Regions from separate parts of the Homo sapiens genome. Here all the other regions are reported to be linked to region 3. Evidence: microRNA targets listed by miRTarBase, many of them from high-throughput screens and not tested one by one. Region 3 holds a microRNA gene; each other region holds the end of a gene's coding sequence. Distances are between the middles of the regions.

Region 1 (3,000 bases), not on the chromosome of region 3:
TCAGATATGAGAATGGTGGGTGTAGGGGCAATGGCCAATGGGCCATGGCCGGAAGGAAATTGTTACAGAGTAGTGGGAAGCCTGCAAAGACTGGCTTCTGTCCGTTTTGCCTTGGTTTGCCCATGTGGATATTCTTTGCCAATATTTTCTGCCCAAGAGCTGTGCTTGCTAGAGTTGGAAACTGGATGAAAAGGTGAAGACTTTTTTTCTTCTCAACAGCTCACAAAGAAAGTGAACAACATAGAGACGGGCTGGGCCTTGGGGGCCACCTTTCACCTGTTGCAGTCTCTGGGCATCTCCCATTGAGGCCACGTACTTCCTTGGAGACCTGCATTTGCCAACACCTTTTTAAGGGGAGGAGAGAGCACTTAGTTTCTGAACTAGTCTGGGGACATCCTGGACTTGAGCCTAGAGATTTAGGTTTAATTAATTTTACACATCTAATGTGAACTGCTGCCTAACCACTCAAGAGTACACAGCTGGCACCAGAGCATCACAGAGAGCCCTGTGAGCCAAAAAGTATAGTTTTGGAACTTAACCTTGGAGTGAGAGCCCAGGGACAGGTCCCTGGAAACCAAAGAAAAATCGCATTTCAACCCTTTGAGTGCCTCATTCCACTGAATATTTAAATTTTCCTCTTAAATGGTAAACTGACTTATTGCAATCCCAAGACCCATCAATATCAGTATTTTTTTCCTCCCTATACAGTGCCCTGCCCACCCTTATCTGCACCCACCTCCCCTGAAAAAGAGAGAAAAAAAAAAACCTGGTTTTGCTTTCCATGTATAATTCAACAACGCAAAATGGGACCATGTCAGAATCTGTATGATCCTATTCTGTGTTAGCTCCAATCAGCCAGCTGAGAGCCATCCTAAATATTAATAGGATGAGAGAGTAACTCCTAACTGTGCATAAATTACAGCCTTAAGAAAGAAGGCCACCCGGTCTCTGGGGACATGTTTTGGGAGGGTGTGGCTGCCTCATATAGCCTACCTTTGCTTTAATCAGCATTTTATCAGTCAACTCTGGGATTAATGAACATATCCGACTTTATGGGTATGTGTATATTCAGTGCCAGTACCACCTCCCAGGCTAATGTGTTAACAGTGTTTTCTATGATTCTAAACTTGTTTTCTTTGTATTTCTAAGAAATACAACTAGGCCCTAACTTTTGGTCTGTGGTCAGAGGTCAGTGTCTGTGCTATTCCAGGATCTATTATTTCAGTTTGCCCTTTTATTCTCTCCGTTTGTAACAGTACCTTCCTGTCCTGGTCCCTGATCACTTTAGCTAATATCCTTTGAATTATTTATCTAGTTCAGAGTTTCCAATACCGTTCCTGACAAAACCCCACTTGGATTTGGTTGGCTCTCTCAGCCCACATCAGTACAGTGGACCAACATTTCCAGGGAGAACCATATTTAATGTCCCTCATGCTCTCTTTTTGAATCCAAGTGCTCAGAGCTCTTGACTGTGAATTATTTACCCCAAATTCATTATCTTGCACTTTTTTTTGAGATGGAGTCTTGCTCTGTTGCTCAGGCTAGAGTGGAGTGGCGCAATCTCAGCTCACTGCAACCTCCGCCCCCAGGTTCAAGCGATTCTTGTTCTCAGCCTCCTGAAGAGCTGGGATTACAGGTGCCCACCACCATTCCTGGCTAATTTTTGTATTTGTAGTAGAGATGGGGTTTCACCATGTTGGCCAGGCTGGTTTCCAACTCCTGATCTCAATTGATCCACCCGCTTCCCAAAGTGCTGGGATTACAGGCATGAGACACCGCGCCTGGCCTTATCTTGCACTTTCAACATAATCATCCCTGCTTCTCATCTGCCCTGCAGTGCTCTTGGACCTGGAAGATCTCCCTGTGGTCTGGCCCCTTTGCCTTGGTTGTTAACCTCCAGCTTCTTTGCAGGAGTGTATTTCCCCAAAACTTGTGGCTTTCACAGTAGACTCCGTTTCCATCCTCTCTCTCACAAAGGATGTTAAGTATGCCTGGCCCTCACACAGTCCATGGGAAACCTTATTTTTAACATTACTCCATTGAGTCAATAAATATTTACCATCTGCTGTGTGCAAGTTACTAGGCAAATTTCTGTATCCTTGTCCCTAAAATTCTTGTCTTTAAATTCATTGTGGAATTTCTTTAGACTTCACACTGACTTTTATTACTAAGGTCACCTTTATACCAACTGCCTTCCTCAAAATGCTTATAATGAAATAACAGAATCTTGAGTTGGAAACAGCCCAAAGAAATAATCCAATGTTGTACTCAGTGCAGAATTCCCTAGAATTTCTAACAGGTTGTCATTCAGCTTCTGCTAAGCCATGTTCAAACAGCTTATTCCATTTGGAACTGCACTGATATTAAAAAAAATTCCTTATATTGAGCTGAAATCTACCTATCTTCTAAGTGGTCTTAGTTCTGCTCTAATCTCTCCTTCCAAAATCTTTGGATCTTTTGAAAAAAGTTCCTCCCAAGTTCTTTTATAAGTGACATGACTTTTAGACCCCTTCCCATCTTTGTCAACAAAAGTAGGGTGCCAGACCAGTCACAGAACACTAAATGTCATCCATGTTTCCTTCAGTAGAAACCAGCAGTTTTAAAAGAGGTAAGCTGTGTTCACTAAAGACTGTTCCAGCTTGACAAATGCAGAGATATAAGTCTCTGGTCTTTAATCACTGTGGGGGCCATTTTGTAAAACACACATACTGTCCAGCAGACTCCTTTGGTCATCCCAAATACCTCTGAACTCCAGGGAAGATGCATTCTAACTCCACGAACTTACCTATTTTGTTAACCTTGATTAGACCTTCTGGAGAAGTAACCAATTTGTCCATCTTAGGAGCAATTTGGAATGAGAGTTTTTATTTTTTTCTGTAACGCCCATCCTGCCTGCAGTAGACCCTTTGGGCTTAAGAGGTCCTACAGATTCTAATAGTTTCCTCTTTGTAGATGTGTTAACATATTTAAAATACTTAGGACATGGCCTGGTACGTGACA
Region 2 (3,000 bases), 110 Mb from region 3:
CTCAGATTTTCTAGGGTAAAGGTGAAGGATGGGGCAGCACTTAGGTTATGGTGGTTTGAAAGAAACTGAATTGCTTTCTAAACCAGATGAGGATCAGAGTGCGAACCATGGTGAAATATGCATGGAAACTACAGAAAGACTGAAGTGTTTCTTACGGTGTTTTCTGCAAAACGTGATTCATTAGGACATTAACAGGTATTACGTTTTCAACATATACAGCATTATGATACAGTAAGTTTGGACCAAACAGGTATTCATTCCCCAGAGCCTTTCACATGCACGAGAATCAGTCATTTTAACAAGAATTCCGTTTCTGCTGGGCCACTTGGATCCCTTGGATTCAGATGTAAAAACACACTGAAATATTCCTCCTTTCACCTGCTTTTCAGTTTGAGGTAATCAGATTGAAAAGCAGGAGTTCATGCATTTTTTGGTTCTATTTTTCCTCCTCTAGTAAATGAAGAAAATAAGCTATATGTATAAGTTTACATTATTCTTGAACCGCTTTTTAAACTAGGGTTTTTCATATTTGTTTTTATTGATGACAATTAAAGCAATTTAAGAGACGAAGTTAGCTCAAAACTCTTGCGAATAGATTTTAGCATTTTTGTATGAGGGAATATGGAAAGGCCAACAAGCAGCACTGTTCCTCCCCACAAAAATGCCTTGGGAATATAATAGGCGTACACTTCATTTGTGTAACTTTTCCTAATGTATTTTTTTTTAATTTGCTTTATAACGGTTTCATGTTTACCTCAATTGGTACTTAGTCTTAAAATCTTTCTTTATACTTGGTTATTGATGGATCTTCTGCAGCTCTTATGTAGCCAATGAGACAGATGAGGGCTGTCAGCTTTTAAGTGACATCTTAAGCTAATAAGAAATTGGAATCCTCAAGTCATTTCATGAGGCTGTTACCCTTTAAGACAAATAATACTTTCCTCAAATAGTTCAGAAAATTTTTAAAAGGATCACTTAGAGCATAAGTGTAAAATTCTTGCTTCTAGTATATAATAGTGATGTTACCATGTCAAGTATTTTGGTGAAATATCCCCTAAAAATGTGTAGACTACGGCACAGATTGAGTATGCAAGCCTTAGCTTGAATGAGACTGCTGAGAAGTAAATGACAGGGATCTGAATACTTAGCAGGCTTAACTTTTTGCAGGGAAGGAAAGGCTATGTATGCAAAAGAATAGGTTGTAACTACTGAAGAGCTACTTTATGCTCAGAAACCTTTTATTCCACTTTGTATCCAAGATTTCATTAAAACATTGTTCCTTAGAGCATACTTTAAAAACTATTTGGTAAGGAATCCACTGTTGAACTTCAGGTCTTAATAGCACTGGCTTTGGTGCTAAACTGAGTTGAATTCCAAGCCTGTTGGCCATTCCCAGCATTGCCACTGCTGTGTTAGTTTTCTCATCTGTAAATAACTGCCTACATCTCACAGGGCCTCTAATAGTTAAATAGATTGTAAGCTGCACAAGCATAGGGACAGTCTGTCTTTTGTAAACCTCCCATGCACACAATAGGAAATCAAATATTCTTGAACAAATGAAGTCACTAAGTGCTCATTAAATTTCATTTTAAATATATGCCTCTGTTAATTCATGGATCTTGGAACTTACTTAAAAGACAATGCTTTGACGGACATTTCCACATTCCTCATAGGGATTTACTTTTTAATACAAACAGGTTCAGTTAACATTGCCATACACATCTCATTACTTTTGGGAGTGCTTTTCCAGAAATCTCTGGTAGTCACGTCACTTCATGATGGGGCTACGTTCTGAGAAATGTGTCTTTGGGTGATTTCATCACTGTATGAACATCACAGAGTATACTTACACAGACCCTGATGATATGTATATAGCCTGTTACACACTTAGGCTATACAGATAGCCTAGCCTATTACTCTTCAGCTATAGCACTGTACAGAATGTTACTGTAATCATACTGTAGGCAACTGTAACACAATGGTAAAACATTTGTATATTTAGACATAGAAAAGGTACAGTAAAAATATGGTATAATCTTATGAGACCACCCTTTATACAATGTCATTGACCAAAATGTTACGTGGTGCCATGACTATACTTGTTAAGAAGGAAAATTCCAGTCCTTTTGACCTATGGTAGGCTCAACAATCTGTAATTTTAGAAAATCCTACAAGGGATTCTGATGTGGATGGTATGAGTACCACATTTTGAGATGTCTAGAAGAAAAATCTTCAAACTCCTTGGCCTTTTTCTTCCATGGAACCATCTTCTGACTAAGCTGGTTAGTCTTCTGAACTAGAAAACCTGGGTCTGGGATAGAATCCAAAATTTGCATGTGGACAGAAAAAAACACTGCAGCAAACCTGCTGTACCAAAGGTTACTTATTATACTTCAGTGCTTACCATTGTTTTTTTTACTCCTTTGGTTTAAGGTTTGTAAAGACATCTAGCTGTTAGGTTGAAGTGAGCTCTTCAAATAGACCATTATATATATAAGTGTTAAAAAAGCACATGGTCTAGTCCCTAAAACAGTCATATTTTATTCTTCTGAACAGCTACTTACAAAGTAATCTCAATCAGTGAAATTATAAATCATGTAACTGTTCATGATTAAAAGGCAAGACACAGCCAAGACAGTAGATGGGCAAGTCTCACATAAATACAAGAATGTTTATAGAATGTTTAGCATATCATGTTAATGGACAATAGTTTTCCGTTCTCTACAGAAGTATGAATGAAATGCCAAAGTTGAAGTCACTGGTTATATTCATAACCAGCTTAGTGAGGATGTTGCCCACTGCCTCACATCTGTAGGACAGTTGGGATATTTCTGCAGAGCATTCATAATTTGAGTATTATCCAAAAGCAGTTTCATCAGCTGGTACTCTCTCTGTGAATTTCCTGAAGTTCTTTCCATGGGCTTTATTAATTCTAATTGCTGCAAGTGTTCAAAAGCCTGAAAGATGAAAGAAATAGTTTAGGTTGAATAGGAGAGGAGA
Region 3 (3,268 bases):
TCCTTTTTTTATGTGTAACAAACCAAATGAATTTAGTTACTGTTATTCCAGACCAGAAGACTGGAATACAATGACTCCTATCAGTTTACATTTCCTATTTGAAGGTAAAAGAGTTGTTTCTCTATATCATCTATTTGATCTTTCATTTCTCAAGATAAAGTTCACTGATTTCTGGAGGAATTATAAATAGAAGTAATCCATTTAGCTAAGACAAAAAAGACAATAGGACATATTGAAATTTTATTATAAAAAGAAACCAAATTTATATCCAAATAGAAAAAAAAGTTTCCTCATCATTCATGCATTATCCAGAAAATCTTAAAATTTTTAATAAAATTACCAGCCTCTCACCTGGGAATAGGTGTGTAAATATTTTATATGTTGTCTTTAACTTAATGAGTTATCATGGAATAGGAAGTTTTTAAGCCTGAATTACTCAGCACTATTCTACTTTTCCAATTCATTCAAATGTAATTTACTACTATTAAATTAGTATTAATTTATTTATTATTATACTTTCTCAATGGGGCCAAGCACAATGTTAAACATATGATATAGTTTTATTTATGTTTCATAATGTACGGTTTAATGGACACTAATAACCATTTGTGGATTTCTTGCATAATAATAACATACAGAACTCTAATAGTCATAGAAAACCTTCACTGAGTATTACCTATGCATCAGTGACCATAATTTGTCGTGTTCATGTGATATATTTAGCGATCTTCACAAGCTTATAATGAGGGAAATACTACCGGCATTATTCTTCTCAATAAAGATGAAGAAACAAACGCTTAGAGAGATTAAATAAGTTGCCCCAAGTCACTAACCCAGATATTAAGCAGCAATGTTGATACTGGTAGCAGACATGTCTGCCTCCAAAACCTGTACTTCTAACCAGTTAACATCTTTGTTTCTAATGTGTATGGCTTCTATGGGTACCCACATAGAATGGGTACATTGTTGAACATGACACATCTGTAGCCATGCTTCCCTCATTAGTCCATATCACAAAAGAAGAGTTGGTTTTCCCCATGTCTATTTCTCAACCCTCCGATTGTGCTCTGCCTTCTCTCTGTGTGTCAACTACTCCCAAATATTTAGGATATTCCTAGTTTTCTCCTCAGTGCATCACAACTCTGTATTCAGGGTTGTGCCTACCTGATAACCTTAACATCCATGCCATTGTTTCCCTTTTGATATGTGAGTTATCCTTAATAACTCATTCATGCTTACCACTCATATAAGTAAAATATGTCAATTCTAATTTTAAAGTAAAATACACCCACTTGTCTCTATCTTCATGTCTTCCTTCACTTTAGTCCAATTCATAGGCTTCTAAACCAGCCATCTAAAATCCCTTTGCCTTCATTTTTTCTCCTTATATTTGTTCTCCACACAGCAGCCAGGTTGACTGTTTTTTAAAACACACAAAGTTAAGCAGTTAACAGACTGGGGCCATACTCCACGATGGCTGGTTGAAGAAATTCACCATTCTGTAGGAACTAGGATTTGTATGGCTGCCTGAAGATCCATGAATATTGACTGCTGTGGAGCAATCCCCCTTCCCGCTCCAAATCCTGGTTTCTGCACCATGCCTCCACTGGGAGGGCCTCTCATTCTACCAACCGGCCCACCTCGAGGGCCTCCAGGACACTGAAGACAATTATCTCATGGGAAAAATATGGAACGCTTCATGAATTTGCATGTCATCCTTGCACAGGGGCCATGCTAATCTCTATATTATTCCAATTTTAGTATATATGCTGCTGAAGCAAGCACCAAACTAATTTTTTACGTGAGTAATACCTACATATAAACTACAACATACATGCACATAGACACTAAAACAGTACAAACATAGAGTGAAAAGTTAAAATTCTTCCCACAACTGTTGATTGTATTAGATTGGTGCAAAAGTCATTGTCGTTTTCGCCAAGTTACTTTCAAAAACCACAATTACTTTTGCACCAACCTAACAGTTGACACGTATGTGAAAATTGTTGTGTTTTGATCCTGGATCCTTATAGAATTCTTGTAACTTTGCTTTACCGCAACTGAGTACATTGACTCTTGGAATAAAAATTATATTTTCTGTAAAATATATGTTTAGGTTATTTATTAACTATATATAAATTTTCCTTTCGATTTATTGTATTGGCTAGATCCTGAAGATGATGCTGGGTAGACACTGTGAAAGAGGGCATCCTTCTGTTTTTCCCAATTTAATGAGAATGCTTCTGAAAGTTCATATATGTGTATTGAAGTTTTTAGAGGATTCCATTCATTAAACAGAGGAGTTGCTTTCTTCTCTCAGCATGGTAAATGTTGGGTCAATGAAAAAAGAAAATGTACTGTATACACACAATGGAAAACCCTTCAGCCATAAAAAAGAAGGAAATCTTGTTCCTGATGACAACATAAATAAACGTGGAAAACCTACGTTGAGAGAAATGTCAGGAACACAAAGACAAATACCACATAATATCACTTATATATGGAATCCAAAAAAGTTGAACCCACAGAAGCAAAATGGTGGTTTCCAGAAGCTAGGGGATTGGTCTAGCAAGATGTTAGTCAAAGGATACAAAATCTCAGCTGGAAGAGATAAGTTCAAGCATTCTATTGTATAGTATGATAACTATAGTTAACAACAATCTACTATAAGCTTGCAAATTACTGAGTACACTTTAAATTTCTCACTACCAAAAAAAAAAGTATGTGAGGTAATGTATGTATAAAGTAGCTTGATTTAGCCATTTCACAATGATTTGACAGATATAGCAAAATATCATCTGGAACACCATAAATAAATACAATTTTTATTCGTCACTATACAAAAGGAGCTGATCAATAGTAACAATTGTTGAAAATATTTTAACTGGATCTGAGACATTACGAATTTTTGTAGAAGTGCATTAGGGAAGTGCCTTAGGAAAGAAAATTTTTTTATTCCAGGTGTGGTTGATAGAGTTGAATTACAGTAACATTTTGTTTTAAATAACCTTTTTAAAAAATACATAGCTAGGTGTGGTGGCACAGAGCTGTTGTCCCAGCTGCTTGGGAGGCTGAGGCAAGAGGATTGCTAGACCCAGGAGTTTGAGTCTAGTCTGGGCAACATAGTGAGAACCCATCTCTTAAAAAATAATTACTTTTTTAAACCTAAGAAATTAGCTCTAGTTGGTCAAAAAGTATAATTATTTTAAAATTACTGCACTTATTTGATATATTTTAAAATGTGAGTATTTGTATTCATGTTCACATT

The links. Region 3 holds the annotated microRNA hsa-miR-548ad-3p (GAAAACGACAAUGACUUUUGCA, at 1,916-1,937, opposite strand). A microRNA usually pairs through its seed, bases 2 to 8, with sites in the 3' UTR of a target mRNA and lowers its output. Matches are read on the target gene's strand: a 7mer-m8 pairs with bases 2 to 8, a 7mer-A1 pairs with bases 2 to 7 and ends in A, and an 8mer does both.
Region 1: the mRNA of ENTPD5 is a reported target of hsa-miR-548ad-3p. The part of its 3' UTR that is shown has no 7-base or 8-base seed match.
Region 2: miRTarBase lists ORC4 as a target of hsa-miR-548ad-3p. The part of its 3' UTR that is shown has no 7-base or 8-base seed match.

Annotation. Positions count from the first base shown.
Region 1 is chr14:73,964,234-73,967,233 of GRCh38, reverse strand. ENTPD5 (ectonucleoside triphosphate diphosphohydrolase 5 (inactive)) reads left to right here. Exons shown (of 16, transcript NM_001249.5): 16 at 220-3,000. The coding sequence ends at 306. Among named protein-coding and RNA genes, the nearest start is that of COQ6, 15 kb to the right of the region's middle.
Region 2 is chr2:147,932,742-147,935,741 of GRCh38, forward strand. It overlaps ORC4 (origin recognition complex subunit 4), which reads right to left. Exons shown (of 14, transcript NM_181741.4): 14 at 1-2,957. The coding sequence ends at 2,769. Among named protein-coding and RNA genes, the nearest start is that of ORC4, 86 kb to the right of the region's middle.
Region 3 is chr2:35,470,122-35,473,389 of GRCh38, reverse strand. It overlaps MIR548AD (microRNA 548ad), which reads right to left and starts at 1,985; the gene lies at 1,904-1,985. It also overlaps the pseudogene RNU6-1117P.